Linked DNA regions of Homo sapiens: region 1 is linked to region 2. The links come from fine-mapping of genetic effects on gene expression. A gene starts in region 2. The other region holds a variant in brackets. All regions are shown on one strand. Distances are from middle to middle.

The links. PIP is the estimated chance that this variant, and not a neighbour inherited with it, causes the effect. A credible set is the group of variants that fine-mapping cannot tell apart.
Region 1: its variant is the best candidate, but not a certain one, in a credible set for the expression of OPA1 in whole blood (INTERVAL, PIP 0.86).

Annotation. Positions count from the first base shown.
Region 1 is chr3:193,651,775-193,657,161 of GRCh38, reverse strand. It overlaps OPA1 (OPA1 mitochondrial dynamin like GTPase), which reads right to left. Exons shown (of 31, transcript NM_130837.3): 22 at 2,135-2,300; 23 at 1-82. The region is part of intron 4 of LOC102724808 (a long non-coding RNA gene); the gene reads left to right. Among named protein-coding and RNA genes, the nearest start is that of OPA1-AS1, 27 kb to the right of the region's middle. The variant C/T (reference allele first, on the strand shown) is at 2,924.
Region 2 is chr3:193,590,296-193,595,682 of GRCh38, reverse strand. It overlaps OPA1 (OPA1 mitochondrial dynamin like GTPase), which reads right to left and starts at 2,475. Exons shown (of 31, transcript NM_130837.3): 1 at 2,274-2,475. The coding sequence starts at 2,305. It also overlaps a transcript of ATP13A4 not described here. RefSeq lists enhancers at 1,917-1,996, 1,510-2,161, 2,597-2,646, 2,697-2,766, 2,162-2,813 and a silencer at 2,227-2,376.

The sequences.
Region 1 (5,387 bases), 61 kb before region 2:
TATCAAATATGTCATCATGCTCTTTCCCTTTCGGTTCTGTCATAAAGCGGGAAAATTCTTCTTGTAGGGTCTCCCAAGCAACCTATAATTATTTGAAAGAAAAAAAGCCATATTATTACTACATACTTCAATGGTTAACATGAAAAATAACACGAGCTCAAGCCAAACAGATGTGATAAATAAATCAGCTTATCAGAAAATATATGTGAAACTACATTAACAAAAAGGCAAATATAAACCATGATGTAGAGGTCTCACACGGGTTGCTGGGGACAGATATGGCTTCCTGGTATGTTTTCCTAGACATGTATAGCGGTTCTCATTTTTAAAATTGCATGCTAATATTTAAAAATTGAGAGATTTCATATAAAAGTCTGCATTTACGGCTTCTCTTGGACTAACTGAGAAGGATATACCCATATTCCTACATGACACCACCTACTGTAGCTGAACAGGGCTGTCTCTTCAAGATAAGGTATGTATTCTAAGCCTGCCACCCAAGTTAGTTCATTTATTTATTTCAACCTCTAAGACATGAGTCTGACTGCTTCTTTCACACTGCAAAAGGTTTTAAATGTCTTAATGATTCAGTCATCTTCATAGCTTTGTCTTTAAGCAAAGATATGAAGCAATGCACCAACACTTTAAAACATAGCCGAAGAGTATTCAGCTTTGTATTATAGCTAACTCCTAATGATCTGAACGGTGAAAGGAAGAGCACAGTGTCAAAAATAATGAAGAACAAAATCTACTTATAACTATGTGGGCTTTTTAATGCTGGATTTTAGCCCTCTCTCATTTTAAAAAAGAAAGTGACTGTCCAAAAATACGGAGTGAGTGGTGGGGTGAGTATTAAGATCCATGTTTCCTGACCTTCTCACCAGATCTACATTCTTTCCATGACACCTAGTGCTGAGGGACAGAAAGCAGCAGTGGAAAGAAAAATTGATGCTTTCATAACCACTTCCACTGCTTGAACCTTAGGATGTGAAAATATCCTATCATGGGACAGGGCGCAGAAAAAATGTTAGTGCCAGTAATGAGAGCTACTGAAGGGGTAGCAGCAGCTCTCTAACTTCTTCAGGGGTAAATGTGTCAAGAACTGCCAGGGCTCAGCAACGTGCAACTTAGGCAGGGAGGCTGCTGGAGTTCTTAGAAAGGGGCTTGAAGAAATTGAGAACAGAGATAAGGAAGTTAACACTGGAGCAAGATAGGAAAGGGGTGAAATCACATCCGAATAATTAGAAACTGACACTGCCTTTAAGATAGGTATGAAAAACAAAATTACTTTTAACATTGACTTCAATTTTGTGAGCAACCTCACACACAAGCACAGGACACACTGACTCTTAGCTTGAACAATCGCTGTTTATGGGGTGATGTACATGATGGATCAATTCAGATGATGAGGACCATAATAACAGCAGGTCCATTCCCTGAGCAGTTACCATGGGCTGGGCATTGTCTAAGTATTTTACATATAATTACTTACTTAATCCTTATAACAATGCTGTGAGGTAGGCAACATTATTGTCACCATTTTATAGATGAAAAAACACATAGGAAAGTTAAGCAACTAGGCAAAGGATCACACAGCTATTAAGTGATAAAGCCAAGATACATGGTAGCAGAAATAGATTCTTTAAGGTAGTTTTTTGTTTTGTTTTGTTTTGTTTTTTAATAATTCCTAGTTTAATCTTCTGTCAGGATCCTAAGAAAATGATAATTTAAGTATAACTGAGCTCAGATGAAATGCTTCATCTATTAAGTATTTTCTTTATGGAATCTCTATAATCCACAGAATCCACAGAAAATGTTCAAAATATTTCACATTCAAGCAAATACTCAAGCAAATATTTCATATTCAAGCAAAATTTGCTTGTTAAATATTGTCTTTGGAAGAAGTACCAATACCCTCAGGCCAACATCATACCAATTAGTAAATTTTTATAACCGTAGTAACTGGTAGCAACATTAAGGTTAGTCCCAAAACAGAGATGAGGAATAAAGAATAAATGAGATATAAAGACCTAAAAGAAAGATAGAGGCTGTGATGGGAATAAAATCTAAAATTCACAGCTCCTACTCCCTTCAGATAATGCTTCTTACCCATTTAATTAAATTATATCCTAACCTCTACTGCTTTATTAGGAAGTTGTTTATCAGTCCACTGTTTAAGCTTGATATCCACTGTGGTGTTAAAAGTTCCTGAATTCATGGTCTGCGCAGCTGGAAGGTAGATGTTTTCAATCACATGAGTTGATACTCTTTCCCACAAAGATTGTTGAAGGATTTCCTCCCTGAAATAAAAAAGTATCAAAAGCACCAAATCTAAATATAATATTGTTTTTAAAAACAGCTTGACTGAAGTATCATTAACTTATAATAAACTGTACATATTTAAAATTTTGATAAGTTTTCACATGTGTATATACCTGTAAATCGCACCAGTCAAGATAATGAACGCATCCATCATCCTCAAAAGTTGTAACCACTGGAACTGCTTTCTGTCACTGTGATTACTTTGTATTTTCTAGAAATTTATATAAATGCAATCATGTGGCATATACTCTTTTTTTGTCTTTGTTCTTCCACTCCAGCATAATTATTTTGAGGTTCATCATGCTGTTGTATGTATTAATATTTCACTTTTTTTTTTTTTGAGACAGGGTCTTGCTTAGTTGCCCAGGCTGGATGGAGTACAGTGGCACATTCATGGCTCACTGGAGCCTCAACCTCCTGGGCTCAAGCCATCCTCCCACCTTATCCTCCCGAGTAGGTGGGACTACAGGTGGACGCCATTATGCCTGGCTAATTTTTTAAAATTTTGTAGAGATGGGGTCTCACTATGTTGCTGAGGCTGGTCTTGAACTCCTGGGCTCAAGCAATCCTCTTGCCTTGGCCTCCCAAAGTGTTGGGATTA[C/T]AAGTGTGAGACACCGCATCTAGCAATATTTCACTTCTTTTTATTTCTGTGTAGTATTATGTTGCATGAATGTGTTTATCCATTCTTGTGTTGATAGACCCTTAGGCTGTTTCCAGCTTTTGGCTACTACAAATAAAGCTGCTATGAGAATTCACGTACAAGTCTTTCTTATGAACACATGCTTTCATTCCTCTTAGGTAAATACCTAAGAGTGGAATGTTTGGATCATATGGTAATTACATGTTTAATTTTTTTTTGAAATGTTTGCCTCAGTTTACATTTCCACTAGCAGAGAATGAGAGTTCTAGATCCTCTACATCCTTGCCAACACTTGGTATAGTCTGTCATTTAAAATTGTAGCCATTTTAGTAAGTTTATAGTGGTCATTGTGGTTTTACGTTGTATTTCTCTAATGACTAATAATTCTGAGCATCTTTTCATGCACACTTATCTGCCTAGTATTAACATATACTTCATGTGCTTACGGGAGAGTCTGAGACTGAAAATTTCTTGGTATAAATATGACAACTTATCAGATCACAGCACAGAGATGTTATAGAATGCTGTAGATAAAATTTTTCAATAATTCATGATTAAGGTAACAATGTAAAAGATGCATAATCATGTTGAAAATTCTGCCTTGAAAGACATCTTAAAAGAACATGGGTCACTAATAAAAAAATACAACTATTTCAATTTGAAATCTCAAGGAAATATTTATTTGGGTAATAAACTTAGAATACTACAATATAAAAAAAAAACTCTGCTTATCAGGGGATCCTTCTTAAGAATAATCTCAACCCTTTAGGATATAGCCACAAATCTCAGGGTAGCAGAAATATCCTGCTGTCCAAAAGCCCAGCTGAACTTCTCTGGTGAGGAGAGTCAACATCTCCTACCCTCCAAGACTATTTACTAAACATTTTGTGTAAAATTAAGTCTACTGAATCAATCAACACAGATCCTGGTTTCCCACTGCTAACTTTCAGGTCACTTTCCAGTTACAACCAGTAAAGAAATCAGAGTCTGAGGAGGATATATGACTGGGGCCCAAAAGGACAAAGACAATTTAGTCACTGAGTTAATGACAGAGAGTGGGAGAATTTAAGGAGCAAGATGAAGAAAAGCAGCCTGTCAGGGCCTCCTCTTCAGATACCACTTTATACACAATCTCAAGAAGATTACTGAAAGTTGAACTGAAGACCAGGATCCAGCCTCTGACCTCCAGGGCTTTTTTCTCATCCTGCTTCAGAAGAGACATAGTCTGTTATTTTTCCCTGGAGTCTGTGGGCCAGGAATCCATATCCCTGACACCCTTTTTAAAATCCTGATTACCAAATCCCGAGAAGCTAAAGGCAACTTTCTCAAGGGAGGTTGCTGCTTTGACATCCACAGATGCAGCTGTTATCACTTCTCCTTGCCCAGCCTCTCCTGCCTTTCATCGCCAAGCTGCTGTCCTCTGTCTCAGACTCCCACTGCTCCCCTCCATCCCAACAATTTCTGTTGTGCTCCTGTAATACCCGGTTCCATGACAAACCATTTTACACTCTCATTCTCTTTCCCTATTCTTACCTCCAAACCTTTCCTTAAGGAAAGTGATTGTCCTCTGTCCTCAAATTCTGCTGAGATGAAGCTATTCAGCAGTTAAATGGCCTTCAGAGTTAGAAAGTAGAAGTTAAGTCCTCCTCACCCCAGTCTCTCTTCTGAACCATCAGTTCTCAATGTTCATATAAAAACCATTACACTGTGAAGCCACTTCATCTAGTTATGTCATCTGCTACCTTATTGCTTGCTGCTATCATCTAACAATTTTCCCAGCCTATATTCTATGGTTTTTTTTTTTTGTTTGTTTGTTTTCAGACAGGGTCTCACTCTGTCACCCAGGCTGAAGTGCAGTGGCACAGTCTCGGCTCACAGCAACCTCCGCTTCCTGGGTTCAAGCGATTCTCCCACTTCAGCCACCCAAGTAGATGGGATTACAAGCGTGCACCACCATGCCTGGCTAATTTTTGTATATTTATTAGAGACAGGGTTTTCACCATGTTGCCCAGGTTGGTCTTGAATTCCTGAGCTTAAGTGATCCGACCATAGGGGCCTCCCAAAGTGCTGGGATTACAGGCATGAGCCACCGTGCCTGGACTATATTCTGTGTTATTATAGGTGACTTCTCTATTCCAGGTTTTGCCATCAACCAGGGATAACTTCTACTAATACACAAAATATAATTAGCAAAATATAATAAAGGTAATAGTTTTATTGCCTTCTTTATCTACAGAAACTTTACCTACATTCCACTTTAATTAAATTCTTTTTAAAATGGATTTTTTTTTATTTTAAAGTAGAGGACTATTATACTCCATATAATAATTTCAACCAATACAGAAAATGTAAGAAGTACCCCATAGTTCCTCTTTTATAAGATAACCACTATTTATGGTTTTATTATTAAAAAAATTATGTCTAC
Region 2 (5,387 bases):
CCACACCTGGTCCAAGCCTTGAGAAATTTAGGATAAAGGATAAAGTCAAGACCCTAACAGATTCCATGAAGGGAAAAACAAGATAATCATGAAGATGAAAAAATCAGATTGTCATAAGAATTCTCAGCAGCAATAAACAATTACATTAGAAGAAAATGCAGCAATGCCTTTACAGTTCTAAAGGAAAAGAATTTTGAATATAGACTTCAATATTCAGTCAAAACTAAAAATCAAGTATGATGCAAAATAGGTTTCCCCCAGAAATCTACTCTCTTGTTCATTGACTATCACTTTTAATCAATATATCATTTCCTAATATGTAATTCTTTTAAAAATAATTTTACACAATTATTTATTGCACCCAAATGTTAGTATTGATCTTTTCACATGTCCATGAGCATGTATTTACATATGTATGCCCAAAGAAATGCTTATGCTCTCATCTGTTAGGGAGCAGGAATTTAACTGTATTCTTTCACAACATGCAAAGGAACTATAGCAAAAGAAAAACTGCAGAGCTTGGGGCTTCTGGCTTCCCACATCTCTACTTCTTTAGGTAGCTAAACTGTGCCATCACCAGGAGACATTTTTAAGCCATGACTCAATGGCATCCATGGTAACTTTAGAAATAATTTAGCCCAATGACAGCCAATTAAATAAATACCACTTATAAATCAGTTTGTTTTAAAACTCCGTCTTTGTAGTTCTTCTTATACATCTTAATTGCTCCAACAGAGAATGCTATCTTCTGCAGTCTTTTCTCTTTTTATTTAAAGAAAATCAGATATGTTTCCTCACTAAATATTGAGAAGTAGAAATGCAAGGGTTGTAAATAACTTACTTTAATACCAAGGGCTGTGAACTTACTCAAAGACTAAAATTCCATGAGATTAAAAATACCTATGCAATAATTCTAACTGACTAACACTGTTAACTATTGTTATCTCATCTAGTTCTGTATTTTGGACTCCAGTTAACCTATATAAAACAAATTGGGCCGGGCGCGGTGGCTCACGGTTGTAATCCCAGCACTTTGGGAAGTCGAGGAGGGTGGATCACATGAGGTCAGGAGTTCGAGACCAGCCTGGCCAAAATGGTGAAACCCCCTCTCTACTAAAAATACAAAAATTAGCTAGGCGTGCTGGCGCGTGCCTGTAATTCCAGCTACTCCGGAGGCGGAGACAGGAGAATTGCTTGAACCTGGGAGGCGGAGGTTGCAGTGAGCCGAGATAGCGCTACTGCACTCCAGCCTGGACGACAGAGCAAGACTCCGTCTCAAAACAAAACAAAAACAAACTAACGAATGCATTCCATTCCTTATAAACACGATAAATTATCTATACCACTTAAAAAGGTCTGGAAAAAATTCAAAACAACTGCTTAGAAGTTAATTCAGGAAAACCACGTTTTTCCAATTTTGCTTGATGCATCTTACTTCCTATCAAATGCCTGCAACAATGAGCTAAGCTTGAAGGTATCTAATGATACTAGAACAAAATTTCCTATAAAATCCAATTTAATCTCATTACAATGCATATAGTAACGCACAGAAATGAAAAGATTTCTATGATTTTCTATTTAGAATTAAACCACCCCAGGGCAACAATGATTGAGATTAGAAAGGTGGTGCCACGTTCACGACCTTGCATCAAAAAGTAAGTCTCCCTCCCGAAACACAGAAAAAAGCTGCTATTGAAAGGGCATCTCGAATCACCGTCTCTGACACCGTGTGCGTCATTGCTCTAGTTCTGACTTCTATCAGCGGGCTAGGGAAAGAGACGGACGCCCCTTTCCCCGATAGAAGAGCCCAGGTACCTGAAGATGCAATGTACACATGGCGTGGAAATGGAAGAAAAAGAAGACACCGAGAGTTAGGAGAAATGTGGAGAGAGGTGACTCATGGACAGAGCCAAACCTGGCAGGGAGAGGACAGAAAAAAGGCAAAAGAGGCAACCAGAGACAGACAGAACACTGAAGACACAAGGGTGTAAAGGGCAGAGACAAAAGGACAATAGAGACGGGCCAAGATTGAGAGGCGTCCAGAATTTTCGGGTTGGGTAGGGCCAGAGAAAAGGGCCAGTATTGAAGCCGGCTCCGAACGTAAGCCCAGCCAGGGCTCCTGTCATTCTGGGTCCTCAAGAACATCTGGGAATTCTCCAACTGCCGTCGGCCTGGCCTGAGAGTCACCTGCACATTTTTGGAGATAGAGATAAGACAGCCCCACTCTCAAGAGGCCCCAGAATTAACGGGGCCAGATTAGAGCCTGCACTTACCAGGCCACAGCGGCCCGACGTAGTCGCCACATCCCGCCGGCGGGGAGGTCACGCAGGCGCCGAGACGGCCACGCGGGAGCCCCCGTGTGAGCCCCAGCCCGGCTCCCGGTCCAGGAATGACCCAGGAAGTGGCCCTCAGCAGCAAGGGCACAGAGCCGCGGCCGAGGCCCTCCCAATGGCGCATGGACTTCCGCAAGAGCCTGACAGGCACCCGTACTCAGTCCGTCACGGAAACAACCACTTCACCCTTTCTAGGCGGGCAGCACGAACGGTCCGCGGAGGACCAGCGCATGCGCACAGTGCGTCGGGAACGGACTGGAGCAATCCATCGCCTCTCACGGGGCCCCGCCCTCTTGCTTCCGATTTGGAATTCGGAATTAGCCTTGCAGGTTAGAGATTTGGCCAGGGGAGGGAGCGAGAGTTGGGCGGGAACGGGAAGGGCTAAAGGCGTGGAATGAGAATTGATGAATGCTCACCGGGAGCCATGAATTTATTAAGAGTTGGATATTGAGGGAGCACGAAGGAAACTAGAGAGTGCAAGGTGAAATACAGTAATAGCGTACTACAAACTAATGCTTGCACATTTGCCTACCTTCTTTCTTGGGCATCTTTGTTTGAAAGCACTTTCACATCGTTAGGGCAATCATGGGAGGTGAGAAGCAGGACGAAGAGTCATGGATAGGCTAAGTCCCTTAGAATCTCTGAGGATCAGATGGGAAAGGGACTTAAATCAGTTAGGCCAGTAACGGGTTTGGAATAAGCTTGTGTGGTTTATAAAAGGCGTCAAAATGATTTGTTCAACTGTTTCTTCCGGATTTTAAGCCCACCAGTTTGTTGAAATGGTCCTCGTCAAGGCCTCCACCAGCTCCCTATTGTTTGTGGCCAGTGAGCCTGCCACAGCATTCAGTTCAGATGCCTAGTGCTGAGCACTCCTTCAACTACTTTTTCTTTTGGCTCTCTGGCCATCACATTCTCCTTTTTCCCTGGAACTGCTGCTCCCAGGCTTCTTTGATGGCTCCCCTCCCAAATTTCTCAATGTTGGACAGGCCCAGATCTCAGCCATCTTGAGCTCCTCTCCTCCATCACTTTAAATACTCCTTTCCCCTTCCAACACAAACCTTTTATGTTTTGTAAGGAAACCAGGGCCCGTAAAAGGGATGTGGCCTGTGAACGGTTATGAAGCCAATTTTTAGGGACTAAAATAAAAGGGTCCTGTGCATCCTCTTTACTTCAGGGACCTTTCACCTCCTCCCCACTACCCGCCCCCCACCCATGCCACACACATACACAAATACACAGAGCATAAAGACAATTCCTTTTCCCTTAATTGTCAGAATCATAAGTCTGGACCCATGCACTCACAATACCACCAAGAGTAGACCTAGCCATTGATAGTAAACTTCCCAAATGCAGGACTCTTAGAATTTTCTTTATTTATTGTGGTGACTGTTTCAATGGCAGGTCCAGAGAGCAATTTGCTGTACCAACCTGTGCAAACTGTAGATCTTCCTGGGATTGTAGGGTTGTACAAAAAGTGTCTTTGTAATCGTTACTTCCTTGTTATTTTAGAAAATAAAATAAGAGAAACCAAGAGACTTTAACAACAACAACAAAAAAGAAAAATTAGGGATAAAAGACTTTAACCATAAAAAAAGGAGAAACTAACCACCATCACCATTTATATATGGTTATCATATGTTTTATGAAGCCCTTGTTTTGCAGTTCTACTTCTAGGCATTTATCCTGTGGAATCATTCCCATGTATGCAAAGATGTATGCATGATGATGTTTATTTCTGCACTGTATGAAATGGGAAAAGATTGGAATCAGTATAAATGTCCATGTATAGGAACTAGACACATAAATTACATCCGTACTAGCCATGAAAACCTATGCTTTAGGTCTGTATGTCCTGATAAGGAATGATCTCCCATAGATACATAGTGTTGCCATGAAAAAAGGGCAAACTGTTGTATAATAAACTGCAACCATTGGACCAAATTCAGCCCACAGACCTGTTTTGTTTGGTTTAGACAGTGTTGGCCTATGCAGTGTTTTAAAAATAACACTACATTTGGGCTGGGCATGGCGGCTTATGCCTGTAATCCCAGCACTTTGGGAGGCCGAGGAAGGCAGATCACGAGGTCAGGAGTTTGAGACCAGCCTGGCCAATATGGTGAAACCCTGTCTCTACTAAAAATAAAAAAATTAGCCAGCTACTCGGAGGCTGAGGCAGAAAAATTGCTTGAACCCAGGAGGCAGAGGTTGCAGTGAGCTGAGATTGTGCCACTGCACTCCAGCCTGAGCGACAGATCGAGACTCCGTCTCAAAAACAAACAAGCAAAAAAATGCTACATTTGTTGCCAAATAAAAATCAACAAATTTCACATTTTAAAAAATCACATAAAAATATCAGGATGCCTAACAACATCAACCTTCAATTCTTATATACAAAAAATGTCTCGGAACCAGGAGCCAAGTAGTAGTTTTATCCTTCAGGCACTCATGTCCTCTCCGGTAGTTCACACTCCTTCATCTTTCTGAAATTGAACACATCAATTACTGTTTATCATGAAGCTTGTGCTTCTACTTTTCTTAGTAAAAATTAAGAGGAAAAACAACCACTACTTATATTGAAACTGCCTTGGCAAAATTATGACAAGAGGAACCTGACATAGTTGACTCCATCTTGCTTCTGACCTCCAAGCTGTCCTTGCTCATTCCTGGACTTAAGCCAAATGAACTTTGGGGAGGAATGTAGTTTATAGTTTAACTTGAAAGAAAGGATTATAATAGTCCCTTCCTAAAGCTAACTCCCTCGTTGCTCAGGAACCAAAAACCACCTTTGTAAGAAAGGCCAAGAGAACAGGATCATGAGAGGGGCCTGAACTGTGCTAAGACGTAGGTATGGTTTCTATAGTCCCTTACTGCTCAGGAATCAATGTGGCCAGAACTCACAAATCTTATGACTTCCCCAATTGCTCCTATAGATAACATCATTACTATAGAATCTAAGACTGCTTTTTTGCGGTATATTTCAGACTCACCCCATCGAGACTTATGACTCATGACTCAAGTGATCCTGTGGCCCCGCCCAGAGGTGGACTCAGCACA